2 separate regions of the Homo sapiens genome follow, and region 2 is linked to region 1. Evidence: fine-mapped expression QTL. Tissue or cell type: whole blood. Region 1 holds a variant in brackets; the other region holds the start of a gene. All regions are shown on one strand. Distances are from middle to middle.

Evidence for each region. PIP is the estimated chance that this variant, and not a neighbour inherited with it, causes the effect.
Region 2: CRACR2B starts here. The variant in region 1 is fine-mapped to the expression of CRACR2B in whole blood (INTERVAL, PIP above 0.99).

The regions. Positions count from the first base shown.
Region 1 is chr11:783,536-791,858 of GRCh38, reverse strand. It overlaps CEND1 (cell cycle exit and neuronal differentiation 1), which reads left to right and starts at 1,769. Exons shown (of 2, transcript NM_016564.4): 1 at 1,769-1,829; 2 at 3,201-4,744. The coding sequence starts at 3,283. The coding sequence ends at 3,732. SLC25A22 (solute carrier family 25 member 22) reads left to right here. Exons shown (of 10, transcript NM_001191061.2): 10 at 1-1,384. GATD1-DT (GATD1 divergent transcript) reads right to left here. Exons shown (of 2, transcript NR_126343.1): 2 at 7,562-8,323. RefSeq lists a silencer at 1,629-1,858 and enhancers at 7,377-8,064, 8,065-8,323. The variant A/T (reference allele first, on the strand shown) is at 3,877.
Region 2 is chr11:825,590-830,589 of GRCh38, reverse strand. It overlaps CRACR2B (calcium release activated channel regulator 2B), which reads right to left and starts at 2,671. Exons shown (of 9, transcript NM_001286606.2): 1 at 1,818-2,671; 2 at 1,627-1,738; 3 at 1,050-1,230; 4 at 458-604; 5 at 253-340. The coding sequence starts at 1,982. RefSeq lists silencers at 1-424, 2,619-2,708, 2,949-3,568 and enhancers at 554-1,091, 1,092-1,631, 1,632-2,169, 2,710-3,248.

The DNA.
Region 1 (8,323 bases):
AGGCAGCTAGCCCAGGACGGAGCAAGGGAAGACCCCTCCCCAGCCCTCCCGTCGGCAGGGGCAGCAGGGGGCAGGGTGCAGGGTCCACATAGGTGGTGCACACGCAAGCCCCCCGGGGTGCTGCCTGCACCGTTGGGATCAATGTCTCATTTATGTAGAAAATGCAGAAATCTTTACATTCCTCAAGCTAGCCCCTGCCCCAATCCTGCCCTGGCCTGAACACCCCCAGGGACAGAGCTGGTCTCTGGGCTGGGGGCCCCCGGGCCTGGGCCGGGCAGGCTGGACCATACCCCCAGTCCACCAGCTCCAGTCTCCACAGCCATCCTGGCCCACACAGGCACCCCACACAAACCTATTTATTGAATCTGCTGGACCCAAGCGGCTCTCCAGCCCTTCCGTCCTTCCCCAGCCGCTCTTGTCGCCTTGGCAGGACTTGACTCTGCCTCCCTGGCCAGCCTTGCAAGAGGACTGGGGTCTCCTGCCCTCTCTGTTGAGCCAGGAATCCCAAGTGAGGGGTTGCCCTGAGGTCTGACTCTTGGGGCAAGCCCGCCACCCACTGTGGGACTTTCTGGTGGGCTCCTCAGCTCCCACCCCAGGCTGGGGCCCAGATTGTGAGGTCTGTGTGCATGTGTGTGTGTATGTGTGTGTGCATGCGTGTGTGTGTTGTGGGGATCTGGCCTGGCCCTTGGGGATGGGGCTGCTGGGGACTGCCCCCCTTCCCGCCGTGGCCAGGCGCTCTGTGTGCTGTGTGTGCCCCAGGCTCTGTTGACCCCGTCCAGGAACTAACTTACCCAGCTTGGTCTCTCCTGAGTCCTCCACCCTGGCCTGGGATTGGCCAGGGAGCAGGGCGGGCATTGGGACCAGTGTGGAGCCTGAGGGTGCCTGCCCTGCTCTGGAGGGAGGGCCAGGAGCTGCCACACCCCCAAGTCCTCTCAGGGCCCACCCTCCTTTTTCAGCCTCTGCATAAGGCCCCTGGGTACACTGCAGAAGCCCCATCCTTCCCGCCTCCGGGCATAAGGCCCCTGACCACACTTCAGAAGCCCCATCCCCCCTGCCACCGGGCGATCCCTGCTGTGAGCCGAAGCTCTCCCTGCCCCGCCCTGGCCATGTGATCGTGTTGGTGACAGACCCTGATGTGCTGGTGCTGTGTCCCCAAAACCGGGGCCCTCCACAGAGGCCCCTTCCCAGCGACACTACCTGGGGCTCAGGCCTGGACCCCCCCAGTTCACGGTTGCTCCTGGGAGCTGCCCCTCCCGTCACATCAGAACCTTGGAAGCTGCTGCTGCTGCTTACAGAATTATATTTTTTTCTTTTGAAGAGTTTTAAGAAGTTGTAACTTTTTGTGTCTTGTCATGTCAGAGAATAAATAAATATTCTAAGTAGATGCTGCTGTCTGTCTGGGGGTCTGTTTGGGGGCGGGGGAGGGCAGTCCCCTCTTCCCATAACTGGCTCCCTTCAGACTGCAGGGCTAGGCCTGCGCACCCACCCACCGACCCCTCACCCACCGACCCGTCACCCACCGACCAAGGGGCACCCTGGCCTAGAGGGGATGCTGAGCGGGACCCGCCTCCTGCCTCTGGCAGTCCCAGATGGGACTTGGACCCCGCAGTTGCTCTCTCGGACCCTAAGTTTCTACCCCTGGATCTAAGGCGGAGCTGGGTTTGCGGATCCCACGGTTCCCGGCGGGGCGGGGCCCGGTCGCCCCTCCCCCTCCCCGCCCTCCTGCGCCGGGAGCAGTGCATTGTGGGAAACTCCCGAGCTCTCCTCCGCGTTCGCAGCCGCCGTCATCCCGCGGAGGAGCGCGCAGCCCCGGGGAGGCCGGAGGACGCGTAAGGCGGGGGGCTCCCGGCGGGCGGGGCGGGCGGGGCGGGCGCGGCGTCCTGCGGGGCGAGGAGGCGGCTCCGGGCCTTGAAGGTCACTGGGTTTGCGCGCGGGCCCCCCAGTTCTCCAGGGCTCAGTTGATCCCGGGAGAGGGAGGCGGCGGCCGGGATGTAAGTGCCACAAATAGCGAGGTTGGGGGGGCAGACCACCTGCTCTTTGCAAACTTGATGCCCAGCAGCTGAGCCCCCCGAGAACTGCAGGGGTGAAGGGACGGCTGGGCTTCCCTGGGAGGTGGCAGCAGCTGGGCCTCTTCTGGAGACGCCCTCATCATGCTGTGACCTTCGGGTGACCTTCAGTGTGGTCAATGCACCTGGCGGGGGGTGGGGAACGTGCCTCCCTTTCTCTGCAGGTCTGGAGGGCATTTCTCATCCTTCCCTGGGAGAGGCAGACAGGCGGCCTCTGGGGCTTTGGGGCAAGACCCACTCAGGTTCAGGGCGGCTGGGCCCCCAGGGCCCTTCCCACCTCTGCCTCGGTCATTGAGAATCTGGGCACCGCCTTTCCCACAGCCCAGAACCCTGTCCTCCGCCCTGACCCGCGGGCCAAGTGCAGCATGTGCCCACCCTGTTTAACGCCAGGAACCCTCTGCCCACAGAGACAGCACAGCCTTGGGCTGGGCGAGGACTCCCTGCTCCAGGGCTGGAGGCAGGCACGGCCCATGCTGAGGAGGGGGCCCCAGAGGCTGGGGAGGGGCAGACGGCCCTTGGAAGCACAGCCCCACGCTGACTTCCTGGAGAGACACCCCAGTTTTCTCAAGTCTGGGTTCTTGTGGGCCCACCCACCCTGATGGCTGCCTGAGATCCCAGCTCCTGCCCCTCCCCGCCCTCCTCCCCCTGGGACCCTGGCCAGGTCACAGCCTCCGTGCTTTAGTGTCCATCTCTGCAAAGCAGGAATGCTCTCCTGAGGAGGGGATGCAGTCAGCTCTCCCACTGGGGCTCCGATCACCTCCTTGGAGGGGAGAATGCTCTTCCTTCGAGTTCTCTGGGCCTGATCCTTACTTCCCCACCAAGAGCCTCCTGCCCCCGGCTGGTGGGAGGATGTGGCATTTGCATGGGCCATTTTATGGAGCACAGTGGGGTCCCCTACCTCCTCCCACCTGTGCGTGGCCCTTGCCTCTGCGGCTGGAGGGGCCCCTTGAGGAGTGGTCATGGACAGATGGAGTCCAGGCCGTGAAAGAGAAGTGTCAGAGGCCCACGGGAGGCCCCTGAGCTGGGGCTCCAGAGAGTCCAGAGAACTGGGCAGGGGCTGCCTGGGGACCAGGTGGTCGGGGCAGCACAGGGGGGACTGGACCCGCGCGCAGCCTCCCTTGTGTCTCCCTCCAGGCCCATAGAATGCCCAGGGGCGACAAACTGTCCTGAGCCCCTCTGGTGCAGCCACCTGCCTGTCCCATACGCCCCGCCCACCATGGAGTCCAGAGGGAAGTCAGCCAGCAGCCCCAAGCCCGACACCAAGGTGCCCCAGGTCACCACCGAGGCCAAGGTACCCCCGGCAGCCGATGGGAAAGCCCCCTTGACCAAGCCCTCGAAGAAGGAGGCCCCGGCCGAGAAGCAGCAGCCGCCAGCAGCCCCCACCACGGCACCTGCCAAGAAGACCTCGGCCAAGGCCGACCCTGCCCTTCTCAACAACCACAGCAACCTGAAGCCAGCCCCCACGGTCCCCAGCAGTCCCGATGCAACCCCGGAGCCCAAGGGTCCTGGGGACGGGGCGGAGGAAGATGAGGCTGCCAGTGGGGGGCCTGGGGGCCGAGGTCCCTGGTCCTGTGAGAACTTCAACCCCCTGCTGGTGGCTGGGGGTGTGGCCGTGGCAGCCATAGCCCTGATTCTCGGTGTGGCCTTCCTGGTCCGGAAAAAATAATACCTGGGGGCCAGGCGGGGGGCACGGAGCCACTTCCTGTACAGACCCGAGGAAGCCAGTGCATGCAGAGTTCACCCTTACCTATTCGTACACACGCACATTCATTACACACCTACATACGCCCCCAACACACGCGCACGGTGA[A/T]GAGGACGCCCGAGCCCACCCCTGCTGACCCAGGACTTCCCCAACCTCCAGGGCAGAAAGAGCCCAGGCTCCGGGGTCCACAGCACAGGATGTGGGGCGAGGGCACAGCTGGGGAACGGCAAGAAAGGAATGGACCCTGTGTGTGGCCCCCCCCACCCCTGGCGGCTGGGTGATCCTGGGCCCCCAGGGCTGGTCTGAGTGCAGGTGGGGGTGCCGGGATGGGTTGGGCCTGGGCCCGGCCCTCGTGGGGACATTAAAGGGCGCGGTGGCTCCACTCGCCCCATTTCTGCTCTTTGCGTACCCCCCGGGGGTCTGCCTGGGCGAATGCAGTGGGACGGACCTGGGGTGGGCACTCACCTCAGCAGAGCCTCAATGCCACCTCCCCACACCACCCAAGCCTAGCTGGGTGGGAAGACGGAGCCCTGAAGCCTGCGTGTGGAGGGGGTGCTGCCCAAGGGTCGCCTTCCCCAGCTTGTGCTCCAGGGGAGCCCCGACGCCGGCGGGGAGGCAGGGATGTCGAGGGCCCCTCACAGCTGTGCCCGCCCTGCCCCGCTAGACTGCCCCTCCAGCTTGCACCCAGCACCACCTGAGTCTAACCAGCGTATAATGCAATAACAGGTAGAGTAGAACTGCTTTTGGCGGCGACCGTCACACACTGTCCTCAGCCCACTGCACCTGGGGAAGCCCCTCGTGCAGCCCCTCCTTAGCACATCCAGTCCCAGCGTGGCCCTTGGCGCGCAGCAGCAGGCGAACTCCCAGAAGGTGGTGGTGGGCACTGTGAGAACGTGGCCTGCCCTCACTGGCCAGTGGCCACAGGAACCCCGGGCCTGAGTGGAGGCTGAGTCTGAAATAAACTCTGTCGTCTGAAGGCTGCTCTTGCATCCTCATCTGCATGTGGCTGGGAGACGCAGGGTCGCATGTGTCACGCCCACACCCCAGGCTTTCCAGGGAGGGATGCTGCATCCAGGACCCTCTGACGGGACCCCCTGTCACTCCTATGCCCTTATTCCAGGGGCCTCGGCCCGGATCGCCACCCAGGCCCTGCTCCATCCTCCTCCCTGGCCTTCCTGTGGGTCCTGACCCAAGATGGACACCCAGGGGCTACAGGACCAGGAAGCAGTGAGGACATGGGGTGCGGGGAGGGCAAGCCCTGCTTCTCAGGCTGAGCTCTCCAGCCAGGCAGGGGCCCTTCCGCAGCCCCCACTGCAGCGAGCCCCACATCCTGAGTGCAGAAGAGGCTCCCCTCAACACCTCTCATCCATGGACCCCAGCCCACTCTGACCAGGTGTCCAACCGGCGGGCCTGCTGGTGGGCCTGGCCACGGGTGGGGCTGCAGCATGCGGGCCAACAAGCAGCAAGGCCTGCGGTGCCTGGGAAGGGCTCCTTTGAGCTCTGTCTTCCTGGCTCTGGGTCTCACCCGACAGGTGGCTGAGGCCAGCAGACAAGAGCTCCCTGACCACCTCCTCCCCCAAGCCTTCTTCCAGCTGGTGTGGGGGGACAGCCATGTCTTCCTCCTGCCCTTCTGGCACCTGGCACACTCCCTCCCCAGAGCAGCAGTCCTCGTTCATGCACCCACACCCAGGCCCAGACAGATACGGAGGTCCCACGGGGTAGAACCAGCTAAAACCGACACTGTTGCTCCCACCCAGGCCGCCCTGCGACAGCCTCCCTCGACTCCCACTCATGCTGCTGCCTCCTAGAAGTCAAGGAGGCAGCCTATCCCTTGAGCCCGTTGATCTGAGCCCAGCGTACAGAGAAGGCTCTGTGCAGACACTGCTCACACCTCCAGCTCCCAGCTCACCTGCCCCACAGGTGCCAGGATACCTCTCTGACTGGCCAGCAGGGCCCCTCACCATCCTCAGCCTGCCTTCCAGTCGCCCATTCTCTCCATTCTGCGGCTCGTGCTTTAAAAGCAACCAGCCAACCCTTTCTGATATAGTAGGGGACTTGAAAGGGGCTAAGAAGACTGAAGATGGTCTGCCACCTTTAACCACAAGGCTTGGCGCTTTGGTGCTGATATTCCACCCACGATGCTGCCTCATTTTACTTAGCGATTCTCTATTAAACGATGCTTAGATTTTCCAAAACTTTTTCAACTTCAGACAAAGCAGGAATGAAAATCCTTGTAGGCTGGGCACGGTGGCTCACACCTGTAATCCCAGCACTTTGGAAGGCCGAGGTGATAGATGGCTTGAGCTCAGGAGTTTGAGACCAGCCTGGCCAACACAGTGAGACCTCTGTCTGTACAATAAAAATATAGCTAGGTGCAGTGGCTCATGCCTGTAATCCCAGCACTTTGGAAGGCCAAGGCGGGCGAATCACGAGGTCAGGAGTTCGAGACCAGCCTGACCAACATGGTGAAACCCTGTCTCTACTAAAAATACAAAAATTAGCTGGGCCTGGTGGCAGGCGCCTGTAATCCCAGCTACTCAGGAAGCTGAGGGACGAGAATCGCTTGAACCTGGGAGGCGGAGGTTGCAGTGAGCTGAGATCATGCCACTGCACTCTAGCCTGGGTGACAGACCGAGACTCCATCTCAATAAATAAATAAATAAAAATTAGCCAGGCATGGTGGTGTGCGCCTGTGGTCCCAGCTACTCAGGAGGCTGAGGCAGGAGGATTCCCTGAGCCAAGGAGGTTGAGGCTGCAGTGAGCTATGACTGTGCCACTGCCCTCCAGCCTGGGCAACACAGCCAGACCCTGTCTCAAACAACAACAAAAACACCAAGAAAATCTCCGTAAAACCTATTCTGGGTTTGTGGTGCAGCATACATCTTTTCTGGGTTTATTGTATAAACACAAAATCTACTGTCTTAACCATTTTGAAGTGCACAGTTCAGCAGCATCATGCGTATCCATTACCACCGTCCACCTCCAGAATGCGTCATCCCTCCAGAGACTCTGTCCCCATTACACATGGACTCCCCGTCCCCTCCCCTTAACCCCGGGCACCCACCACCTATCTTCTGCCTCAATGGCTCTCCCAAATCTAGCATTGCAGATAAATGGTATCGTGTAACATCTGTCCTTTCAATTGGCCTATTTCACTCAGGGTCCACCCATGCTGTAGTCTATTCAACTTCCCTTCCTTTTTATTTTATTTTTTGAGACGGAGTCTCGCTCTGTCGCCCAGGCTGGAGTGCCGTGGCGCAATCTTGGCTCACTGCAACCTCTGCCTCCTGGGTTCAAGGGATTCTCCTGTCTCAGCCTCCCAAAGTGCTGGGATTACAGGCGCACGCCACCACGTCCGGCTAGTTTTGTATTTTTTAGTAGAGATGGGGTTTCACCATGTTGGCCAGGTTGACTCGAACTCCTGACCTCTGGTGATCCACTCACCTTGGCCTCCCAAAGCGTTGGGATTACAGGCATGAGCCACTGTGCCCAGCCCAACCTTCCCTTCCTTTTTATGGCTGATAAAAGGATGGAAAAAAGGAAAGGAGAAAAAAAAAAAAAAAGAAAGAAAGCTCCTGGCTATTTGGGTCTCACCATTTGATTTTTCCTCTTTGTGCCATTTGTGCAATTTTTTTTTTCTTTTTTGACAGAGTCTCACTCTGTTGCCCAGGCTGGAGTGCAGTGACACGATCTTGGCTCACTGCAACCTCTGTCTCCCAGGTTCAAGCGATTCTCCTGCCTCAGCCTCCCGAGTAGCTGGGACCACAGGAACTCGCCACCACAGCCGGTTAATTTTTTTTTTTTTTTTGTATTTTTAGTAGAGATGGGGTTTCACCATGTTGGCCAGCCTAGTCTCGAACTCCTGTCCTCAAGCGATGCACCTGCCTCGGCCTCCCAAACTGCTGGGATTACAGGCGTGAGCCACTGCTCTCGGCCTGTGCGTTTTTTCTTTGCGGGAATGCTCCTCACTTGTTGCATTTCTTGCGGTGTTTTGCATCCCGAGCCCTTTGCCGCTTGCAGCATCCAATTATCTCCTCCAGTCAGCAGCCACTTGCCTTCCAGTGTTTCTGGAGCACAGACGTTCCAAAAACCCGAGTTTATCAAATTGGAACCATTCTCCCATTACCGAGTAAGCTTTTAGATTCGTGGGCAGAAGGATATCCTGCCACGTTCGAGTCTCATGTTCCTGGCATTTACTCACGCGTAGGCGTCTCATCCATCTGGCACTTAGGTTGTGTGTGGAGCGAGCCAGGGGTCTCACGTTTCTTGCCCATGAGATGGGACGGCCCCAGCGCCAGGGAGTGGATGGTCCTCTGCCAGCCCGCAAGGCGGCGCCAGCTCCTGCTCCCGCTTCCCAGCACAGCCTGTTCTGAGCCAGGCCCCACCGCCTGCGACTGTGGCTCTTTGTCATGTACTCACCTCCTTATTCCTCTCTTTAATCTCCCGCAGGTGCTCAGCTACTGGCTTCCCTCCCGGGACGAGGTCGGAGTCTCCGCCTGGGATTCTGAGGCGTGGCTTTTGCTTCACAGTGCCCCTAAACCTCAGTAGTGTAGGA
Region 2 (5,000 bases), 40 kb before region 1:
CCGGCCGCTCGGCCATGCAAAAGAGGTACACGGAGGGCCAGGGGCTGGGAGTGGGCCCGGGCGGAGCGGGGTCGGGTGGAGAAGACCGGACGGGGGTGATACGTGAGGCCCAGTGGGATCTCCTCGGGCTGAGGGCAGCCTGGACCCGCGGAGGTGGGGCCGTCGGGGAGGGATTAATTCAGAGAAGGCGGAGCCAGGGAGGCCAGCGAGGTGGGATTGGGCCTGGCGGGAGGGGCGGGGCCCGAGGCCCACCTGACTCGGCGGGCGCCGGCTCTGCTCCCGAAGCTGCTCCGTCTCCTCGTACAGAGCGCGCACCTCCCTCTCGTGCTCGCTCTCGCGCCTTCGGGGGACCGGGCGACCCCGGATGAGAACTTGCCAGCGCTACAGCCCCCTGGCACCGCCTCTGCTGCTGCCCTGAGGCCCTCCATTGGCCCCCATACCCCACCCCGGCCCTCACCTCCGCAGCGCCTGCTCCAGGCCGTCGCGCTCCCGGGCCGCCTCCTCCAGGCAGGCCGACGCGCGTATCAGAACATCCTCGAAAGAGCCCAGCAGCTCGGGGCGCTCGCGCTGCAGCCTGGCCCAGAGCGTCCTCACAGCCCGCTGCCTGGAGGGCGGGCGGGAACTGAGGCTGGAGCTGGCAGAAGCGGGAAGCAGGCTTCCCTCCGCCAGCAGCAAACCCTTAGGAGACTTCTTCGCCCCTGGGCAGGACAGGAGCACTTGCTGCGTGCAGGGCATCCCTCCCGTGAGCGCTTTCGCCCCTGCCCGGCGTGCGTGGTCGGTGAGGTGTGTGTACCCTGGGCAGTGCCGGTATGTGGCCCCGCGCCCGGCGCTGCCCCTCCTCCCTGCAGCCCTGGCTGCTGCCTCATGAAATGCAAATTCTGCGGGAAATCATGCCGGGTCCCTCCCAGGGAATCGCAGCTGACGCTAGGCTGGGCCTGACCCGGCCTAGAGACCCTGTGCAGAACCAGCACTCGGGTGACAAGGGCAGACAGCATGCAGGCAGAGAAACAGCAGAGCGGGCAGTGGGAGCGGGGCCAGCGCCGACTCACTTGCCCAGGACCGGGGCCACCCCCAGCTGCTCCAGCACAGTGTGGAATCGCTCCTCCTCTTCCTCCTCCTCATCCAGAGAGCCCGCCGTGCCCTGCACGTCGAGCCCGCCCGACTCAAAGGTCTCCTCGGGAGTCCTGCAGGGGTTCGCTCCCTGGGCTGACGCCACCCCCACAAACATCCCTGCGGGCATGGAGCGAGCGATTACCAGGGCTGTGGGTCGCCACCGTGGCTGTGTCCCCGTTCACCCTCCCAACGAGTATCCTGCCCTCTCTCAGGGCCCAGTTTCCTGTTTTCCTTCCTTATTCTGGTCCTATTGGCCTGGAAACAAGAGGTGACAGGCCAGCTCCCAGCCCTACCGGAGCTTAGCACAGGAGAGGAGCTGGGGGCCAGGAAGGTCAGCTCCACACACTCCACCGCAGCTAGGAGCCCCCAGGCGCGAGTGCGTGCAGACAAAGCACGGGCCCTGGAGGGAGGAGGACGAGAGGCACCGGCAGCCCTCAGGGCGCCACAAGTGCCAGGCCTCCTGATCAGGCCTCCAGCTCTGGGCAGTGGGGGATAGGCAGGCCACAGGCTCACCCAGGCCCAGGCAGAACTCCCTGGCGGTGAGGAAGCCAGTGTGAGCCCGGTCCAGACTTTCAAACACAGCCTCCAGCTGCTCTGGCGTGAGGGGCAGGTCGCTCTGGAGACCCTGGTCGGGGAAGGAGAGCAGAGATGAGCCGCTGCGGTCAACCCAGGGCCGAAGCAGTCTCTTGGGGTGGGGGACTCACCTGCAGGTCGTGCTTGGTGATGAAGCCCTTAGCCTCCTTGTCACACAGCAGAAACAGCTCCTCAGCCTGCTCCAGTATTGCAGCCCGCGGCCCTGCAGAGCCCCCCTCGAGTTCCCCCTCCTCCTCCTGGGCCTCATCAGCCCCAGGCTTTCCAGGGCTGGCCATGAGAGCAGGGGGCCTCAGCCTGGCCTTCAGGTGCTGTGAAGCCAAGGGAGGGTCAGAAGAAATTCAGGAGGGGAGCGGATGGGGTGCAAGTGTGTCTGAAGGCTCAGCCGAGGGCCCTCCCTGCAGCAGGTGGGAAGGTGGGCGGAAGGCAAGGTGGGACCAGGGGGCTGGGGGTGGAAAATGCTGCAGGCTTGGGGTGTCACTGGGGTGGTTGATGTAGGCTCAGGGCCTGTGGGTACTGCCCCAGTGGGTCTGGCATCTCAGGAGGCTGGAACCCAGGAGGGGCTGCCAACTTCAGGAGAGGAGGAGCTGGAGGTGATGGCAATCTCAGGGGCCAGTGGAGAAGACCTGGTGATAAGGAAGGTGGGGTCCTGAAAGCTGAGAGGAGCAGGCTTGGGGTCAGTGAGGGAGGAGCCCCTCACACTCTGCAACTGGAGATCTGATCCCAAGTGAGGGCTCAGCCAGTCCTGACCAAGTCCTTAGCCCCTGGCCTGGGCCTGTGTGGCCCAGCCTCATGACAGCTGGCAGGCAGGGCAGACTTCTCCCTCCTGCCCACCGGCCCCTCCCTCCCCACAACTGAGCCCACAGAGTGCAGGGGCAAGGTCCCAGCCTGCAGAGCCCTTCGCCTCTGACGCCCCACTCAGGAACACTTCCAGATTCGAGACCTAACACCCTTGCCCCACAACACTGAGGCCCTTCCCCGTTTCAGAACTCCCTGGGGCCTCCCTTCCCACCTCCTTGCAGGGACGCCCCGCCCCCTAACCAGAGCCACCTGTCCTTCACACAATGTCCTGATCCCGGATTTCCCAAAGCTGCTCCCCACCAACACCCGCCTTCCCCCACCGGGGAGCTGGGATCCTCTCCCCTCACTCTCCACCCAGCGTCCTTCCATGTTCCTTAGCCCGGGCGACCTCCAAAGAGGGCAAGTCTGGGCGGGTGAGAGAAGGGGACACGAGAGGCCAGGGCCATTGCCTCCAGGCCACGTTGTTGTCTCGCCCGCCCTCCGGCTTGCCGGCTAGACCTGAGGTCCACCCCAGCCGGAAGCCGCGCGGCAGCAGGGCCCCAGGGAGGTGGGAGGATGGGCTGGTGGGGTGGGGCGGCCAGCCTCCTGTGCTCCCCGAAACTCTGGGGGACAACCCCGCCCTTACCCCTGCCGCCTTGCGCCCCGAGGGGGTAACCGGAGTTCCCGACCGAGACGCTCAGGTTTGGCGCGGGCCACGGCGGCCCGGAGGGGGTGCCGGGCGGGCGGCAGTGGAGGGGCCTCAGCGGCGGGACCAGCGGTCGCCTACCCGCGAGTTGCGCCGCCGCACCTGCCGCGCGCCCGGGCCGCTCCTCCCGGAAACACTGGGCGCGCCCCGCCCCAGCTGGGACCCGGACGGGACGTAGAGGGCACTGGGCCCCGAGCGACCCCTGCCGCTTCGCAGGCACCGAGACCCCCGCTTGGGCCGGCCCCGGGAGGAGCCACTCTGCGCCGCTGTCGCCTGTCCCCGCCTCTCTGCGCTGCCCCGGCGGCCCGATCCCTGGAGGCTCGAGCGAGCAGTGAAGCAACGATATGCCCCAGAGACCCAGGGACCCCCCGGAGCAGGGACAAGGCTGCGGGGGGCGGGCGCAGACACCAGCGCCTGGGAGGGGCCCCTCCTGTCCGGGGGGAGCCCGACTTAAGGCGCCAAAAAGTGTGTGTAGGAAAAAGCCGGGCAGGAAACAGACCAAATACTTTCAGCGGTTATCTCTAGGGGTGGGGAGCCTTTACTTTCTTCTCTATACTTTCCCGGTTTTTAAACAATAAACATGTAGGCCGGGCGCCTGTAATCCCAGCACTTTGGGGGGCTGAGACAGGGGCAGATCACCTGAGGTCAGGAGTTCGAGACCAGCCTGCCCAACATGGCGAAACCCCGTCTCTACTAAAAATACAAAAAATTAGCCAGGTGTGGTGGTGGGCGCCTGTAATCCCAGCACTTTGGGAGGCTGAGCCAGGAGAATCACTTGAACTCGGGAGGCAGAGTTTGCAGTGAGCCGAGATTGTGCCATTGCACTGGGCAACAAGAACGAAACTCCATCTCAAAACAAAACAATGAACGTGTAATGCTAGAAAATGTTTAACTTAGCAGTATTCAGTGTATATGTATGGGTGAACGAGCTGGGGACTCAGGCAGGTCCCACCTCAGTAGCCCCTCCTGGCTCTCCTTCTGGGGCCCAGCCCTGACTGGGGCTCCCCTTGGGGGAGGATTGGAAGGAGGAGCTGCTTGAGGCCCGAGTGAAACCCTCCTGTGGGGGGAGAAAATTCCACCCCAGACCGAGGAGCCCTCCCCAGCCCCAGCCCCAGCCTGGCCCCTGCACCCACCTGAAGGGCTGGAATCACTGTCCCGCCCGGCAACCCTGGGGGGTACAAGGCCTCTGCTTTTCAAGGAAGGGGCCTGGGATCCAGCGTGCGACCCAGCTGAACCACAAAAGGCTGGGCTTATAGGACAGGACCTTGAGACCAAGGGGGGTGGCCTCTGGCACAGGCACATCAGGGACCTGCCTGGCCGGCTCGCCCAGTCCCAGATCCCAGAACCAACCGTTATTGTTGGCAGGGGGCTGCCACCACAGCCACCCCACGCCTTCTGGGAGGAGCAGGTGGGGGCTGGCTCCAGCACCCTCAGGCCATGGGGCCTTTTTGGTTGCCAAGGAGGGCTGGCCTTCTCCCCTCATGGCCTCCCTGCCATGAAGAGGATGCCCTCAGGAAACCACTTCCCCAGCACAGGGCTGAGTCCCCTTCAGCTAGGACCTCACCTGCCTCCATATCCCAGCCCTGCCCTGTGTACTGGCAGGAGGCTGGGCAGGGGAACAAGAAGGTATGTGCACCAGGCCAGAGAGGCTTGTGAGGGTGGGGGGACAGAGAACTTTGGGCCAAACGCCCAAGTGGAGCAGGGGCCCAGCTTTCCCAGGTCCCCTGTGCTTGGTTTCAGGAACCTCAGCCCCCACAGCTGGCCAAGCCCCAAAACAGTCACACACCCCACTGTGTCACCGTGTGAGGGG